Linked DNA regions of Homo sapiens: region 2 is linked to region 1. Evidence: fine-mapped expression QTL. A gene starts in region 1. The other region holds a variant in brackets. All regions are shown on one strand. Distances are from middle to middle. Region 1 holds the start of ABT1 (activator of basal transcription 1). Region 2 overlaps LOC124901290 (a long non-coding RNA gene).

Region 1 (2,923 bases):
TTCAAATATATACAAAGTAGAGAAAATAGCTAATAGCTACCATTAGCCACCACACTGGCACAACTTACCGACACTCTTGCATCCATCATGCCCCTCCCCTAGCTCCAGATCTTTTAAAGCCACCCCAACACGTGTTCTCATTTCATTAACTGTACTGTGTTTTGAAGATGTCAGTGTTTATAATTAAATAGCAGTAGACGGAGTTTATCGCTCTCATCGTACCCCGCTCCTCTTCAAAAAAGGAGCAGTGGACACCTACCTGACAGAAAGTTCTCTTCAATAAAGTTAATGAAACAGGCGTGTTTGAATTCGAGAAGTCTATTATTAGACTTTTAGACACTCCATGAAAGAGTGCAGGGCCCTGTTACTTTAGAAATATACTTGGGGACTGGCAAAAACTGTCATCTCTGATTTTAATAGTGGACACATTTACTCCCTGCTTCCATTCTCTGGGCTACTCTGCGCTCTTGGAGCGAGATGGGAAATTTTGTCAGGCCGCAGCAAGGACGGATTTATGTTGATAGTCATCAAACTCGCCCCGGGCTGCTTCCAGAAAGCTAACCGGATTACTTGTACGCGGTTCCCAGCACTGTCCTTTGCAGTCAGCTTGTCGCTGGCGCCGATGGGAAGAACTGAAACGCCTCAAGGGTGGGGACGGCGCCCCCTGCTGGTCGCGCCCTCGGGCGACGATAAGAGACTGAGGACCCGAGCCCGCGCGGGGAAAACTGCCCTGAGCTTGGCTTAGGGATGGTCCGCAGGCCGCCTGGTGGGAGCAGGACCGCCGTGGCCCGGTCCGTTCTGCGGTTGCGTAGGTCATAGAAGGAAAAGTGGTTTGTGATCTGATAGGGAATCTGAGGACAGACCCAGGGAGAGCAGAAATAAGCGCGCCGCCGGGGGGTCGCCAGAATTGGAGGCTTGTGCGCCTCTGACAAGTATTTGCAACATAAGTATGCATATGGATAATGTATCAATACACACGTGTAATAGATGCCAAACAAATTCTTCAAATAATTGTCACACATTTAAATTTTCAGACATTCACAAAATCAAATGTAAAATATTAAACTGAAAGTTCACAACTTAAATTTTCAAAAATTAAATCTAATTAAATTTCCAAAGTTGAACTGTTTTCAAAATTAAATTTTAAAATATTCAAAATTCCGAGGTAAATTTCCAGAAATAGTTAAAACCTCAAAACTCAAAATTTTTAAATGAAATTTATAAACTTTAAAAGGTGAGTCATTCCTCAGCTGGAATCGCACCCGGGGCCCTTGAATAAAATGCTATTTTGATCGCTAGAACACATAGAAACTTCTCTAAAATTGTTCTGCAAAATTCCCTAAAAAGCCGGCATCAACCCGCCTTTTAGCGTCTCGACAAGGCGTTCTATAGGGTAGGTTATATTTGGGGATCTGCCTTTTCTGGTTCTGCCTGTCCTGAGTTGGAGATCTGACCGGGAATCTGAGCCTAACCCAAGTTTCCCATCCCGCTTCCACGCTCTGAATCAGGCTTCCGACCTGACACACCACTTCCTCCCTCTCCCCTCGGCCTTCCCCTGGACCCGACTGTATTGCCCAATCATTTCCTTTCATTTGTCATCACCACCTTGGACCCGCCCCCTCGTCTCAGGCCGTCGCACGCGTTTTGCGTCAGTTGGCAAGGCACTTTACGGCCGTCGTGCCGCTCGTGTCAGTCAACATGGAGGCAGAGGAATCGGAGAAGGCCGCAACGGAGCAAGAGCCGCTGGAAGGGACAGAACAGACACTAGATGCGGAGGAGGAGCAGGAGGAATCCGAAGAAGCGGCCTGTGGCAGCAAGAAACGGGTAGTGCCAGGTATTGTGTACCTGGGCCATATCCCGCCGCGCTTCCGGCCCCTGCACGTCCGCAACCTTCTCAGCGCCTATGGCGAGGTCGGACGCGTCTTCTTTCAGGCTGAGGGTAAGTATGCAGGCCCTGACGGTGACAGGAGGAGGTTGTCGCTCGCTGGCGGGGTGCAAGCATGCATGTCCTGTTGCTTCGCTGCGCGAGGCTGAGGCACGAGTTGCTGGATTTTGGGGGTGGGGAGTGCGGTGCTTGGCTCCTGGCTGGTGAATCAGTCTGTGAGGATGCTGGGGTGGGCGGGCGGAGGGGATATGGGGAGAGTGGGTAGCGCAGTGTGTCTGGTGGTTCTTTAGTTCTCGGATTGTTACTATTTGTGTTCTTATCCCGGCTCTGTTCACCTCTCTTTCCGGACCTGTTTACTGGTTTGTTACATGAATACAACCTGAGTAAAAGTCTCGTCAGCTTTTCTACAAAACTGAACATAACTCTTTAGCATTGCTGCCTAGGTCAAGAAACTATTTGATCAACCGCCCCTCTTCTTTCCACCCTCAATTTTACATTGAGGCTGAGGACTTGTGCCGGTTTTAAGCAGCGTTCAGGGCTGGCCAGATTAAGGAGTGGACAATTAAGGAAAGAATTGAGTTAGCTAGAGGAAAGGGTGCGATTTACAGTTCCCTTCCTCCTGGGCAAAAACTCTTCAGGTGGGACTCCCACTGGCAGATGTGAAGAACGTTGCGGGCAGTGGGAGGTGCTTTTGAGTGAGTGCTGCATAGGCGTCCTGGACGGGTCTTTGTCTTTGGCGCGCAGACCGGTTCGTGAGACGCAAGAAGAAGGCAGCAGCAGCTGCCGGAGGAAAAAAGCGGTCCTACACCAAGGACTACACCGAGGGATGGGTGGAGTTCCGTGACAAGCGCATAGCCAAGCGCGTGGCGGCCAGTCTACACAACACGCCTATGGGTGCCCGCAGGCGCAGCCCCTTCCGTTATGATCTTTGGAACCTCAAGGTGAGAAGATAGATCTTTCTGCCACACCTCTCACCCTCCCTTCTCCCCAACTCTGGCCCAAGTATCCCCATGGCCTCTCATTGGCCTTGTCCCCTTG
Region 2 (2,923 bases), 240 kb after region 1:
TGTTAACTTGATTTATAACTTTTAAATATGCAAACATACACTATATAGGTTTTGATTATTATTCTTGCCCTAGGCCTTAAGAATGTTAAGTTTAAGACAACTGAATATTTTATTAGATATAAGAATGCAACCACATATACTCAAAAACATAAATGTCAAACTAGTAGTCCCTACTTCTAAAATATAATGAAATATTCCATTTAACATTATATTTAGAGTGGATCCCTTATGGAATCATGACATCTTTGCTGATTTAGTTACAGTTGAACTAAGTATTTTGCCTGAAATCAACACTTTATTTTTCAAAACTCCCAAGATATAGTGTGTGACAGATATGTCTTCCACTTATTTTTTTAACCTAGGCTTTATTAATAAGACAAATTATTAGTCACAAATAAAACCTTAAAAATACAGTTCAGCCTTATTTACAACTATTTAGTTACCTAAAATATCCTACATTATACACACACAGGCGCACACACACATATTTCTAATAGAAACTATAAGAAGCAGCCTCGACAAATCAAGAGGACATTATGTTACGTAAAATAAGGTAAGAACAGAAAGTTAAACACTGCATGTTCTCACTCATATGTGGAAACTAAAAAAAAGTTGATCTCAGAGGAGGAAAAAGTAGAATGGAATATACTAGAGACAGGGAAGGGTGGGATGAGAGAAGGATAAAGAAAGATTTGTCAAGGGATACAAAATTAAAGCTAGAGACAAATAAGTTCTAGTGTTCTATAGCATTGTGGGATGACCGTAGTTGACAATAATATATAGTTTCAAATTGCTAGAAGGGGTAAACTGAATGTTCCCATCACAAAGAAATAATAAATTTTGACATGATGGATATGTGAATTACACGAATCTGTTAACTATTCATTGTATGTATCGAAATATCACTACATACCCCATAAATATGTACAATTATCACGTCAATTTAAAAAATATAATAATTAAGAAAAAATACAAAACATTAAATAACGGTGATAGTAGATTTGCCCTCTCAAATATTAAAACATTTGATAAATTTACATAGTTAAAATAGAGGGTAAATATAGAAAAATAATAAAAATTGTGATGAAATCTTGGTGATAACTTGACAGTGCTACTTTGAATATTAAGAATAGTGTAGCTGGCTGGGTGCAGTGGCTCATGCCTGTAATCCCAGCACTTTGGGAGGCTGAGGTGGGTGGATCACCTGAGGTCGGGAGTTTAAGACCAGCCTGACCAACATGGAGAAACCTGTCTCTACTAAAAATACAAAATTAGTTGGGCGTGTTGACAGATGCCTGTAATCCAAGCTACTTGAGAGGCTGAGGCAGGACAATCACTTGAACCCAGGAGGCGGAGGTTACGGTGAGCTGAGATTGTGCCACTGCACTCCAGCCTGGGCAACAGAGGGAGACTCCATTTCAACAACAACAACAACAACAACAACAACAACAAAATATATATATATATATATATATATATAGTGTAGCAGAACCAAAATTTAACAGGTGCAAACCTTTAAATAAGTGTATCCTCTCTAAATGATTTGAACTTGCTTATGGATAATCAAGGTCATAATGTTTGGGACATAAATGCCTGCATACTTATACCAAAATATATCAGCAGTTACAACTAAAATGATCTTACATATTATTTGTCATATCAGGACTATTACTATTATTATAATTACTATTTTTATTATGCTGAAGGTATATGA[T/C]AAATTTTGAGATGTGATTGATGGATGCTTAGGTTTGAAGAAGCAAAATTAGAGAAAGAGCTTAAAGGTGTCTCTGATATCTTCCTTTCTCCCTGGATATGGGCTCTGTAACTACTACATTCAAATATAATCTGGAATATCTAAGGTGCTTTCTTCACAATCTTCCACAAGGGACTGAGAATCATAATGAGACACATTAATGAAGCCTAGTTATCATCTGATAATACTGTCATTAACATTTATTATCACATAATTAGATTGTGCATTAGCCATTTCTCAGAGCCACTTTAAAAGAAAAAAAAAATACGAGGACATATATGAGAACAAACACTGTAAGGAGTGCCTGTATAGTGATAATGTTTCAGAGTGAATGAGACATTTTATCACCTGGCATATTAACAGTGTGAAAGGACAGGGATCATATCAACCTCTCCCCTTCTTCTCTCTATCCTTTACATATTAGTTACTTGTTAAATCTTCTACCTTCTCAAACTGGAGCAATTATCTTAGCAATGACAGTTTTAGTGATGGGAGCAAATCATAATAGCTGTGGGTAATTGTTAGAAAGAAATGACTATAAATCATGCTGCTATAAAGACACATGCACACGTATGTTTATTGCGGCATTATTCACAATAGCAAAGACTTGGAACCAACCCACATGTCCAACAGTGATAGACTGGATTAAGAAAATGTGGCACATATACACCATGGAATACTATGCAGCCATAAAAAATGATGAGTTCATGTCCTTTGTAAGGACATGGATGAAATTGGAAATCATCATTCTCAGTAAACTATCGCAAGAACAAAAAACCAAACACCGCATATTCTCACTCATAGGTGGGAACTGAACAATGAGATCACATGGACACAGGAAGGGGAATATCACACTCTGGGGACTGTGGTGGGGTGGGGGGAGGGGGGAGGGATAGCATTGGGAGATATACCTAATGCTAGATGACGAGTTAGTGGGTGCAGCGCACCAGCATGGCACATGTATACATATGTAACTAACCTGCACAATGTGCACATGTACCCTAAAACTTAAAGTATAATACAAAAATACAAAAAAAAAAAAAACACAGCTCTGAACTTTATAGGTCATGATATCTCTGTAGCTTGTGGGTTTAGCTGCATTTTGAAAAAGATAACTGTGTCTCCCTTAGCATCTTCCTTTTTCCTATTTTTTCTTGTAAGTTTACAAAG

The links. PIP is the estimated chance that this variant, and not a neighbour inherited with it, causes the effect.
Region 2: its variant is the best candidate, but not a certain one, in a credible set for the expression of ABT1 in fibroblasts (GTEx, PIP 0.72).

The regions. Positions count from the first base shown.
Region 1 is chr6:26,595,285-26,598,207 of GRCh38, forward strand. It overlaps ABT1 (activator of basal transcription 1), which reads left to right and starts at 1,669. Exons shown (of 3, transcript NM_013375.4): 1 at 1,669-1,939; 2 at 2,630-2,826. The coding sequence starts at 1,699. RefSeq lists enhancers at 551-700, 801-960, 1,518-1,957.
Region 2 is chr6:26,838,714-26,841,636 of GRCh38, forward strand. The region is part of intron 1 of LOC124901290 (a long non-coding RNA gene); the gene reads right to left. Among named protein-coding and RNA genes, the nearest start is that of TRA-AGC14-2, 12 kb to the left of the region's middle. The variant T/C (reference allele first, on the strand shown) is at 1,715.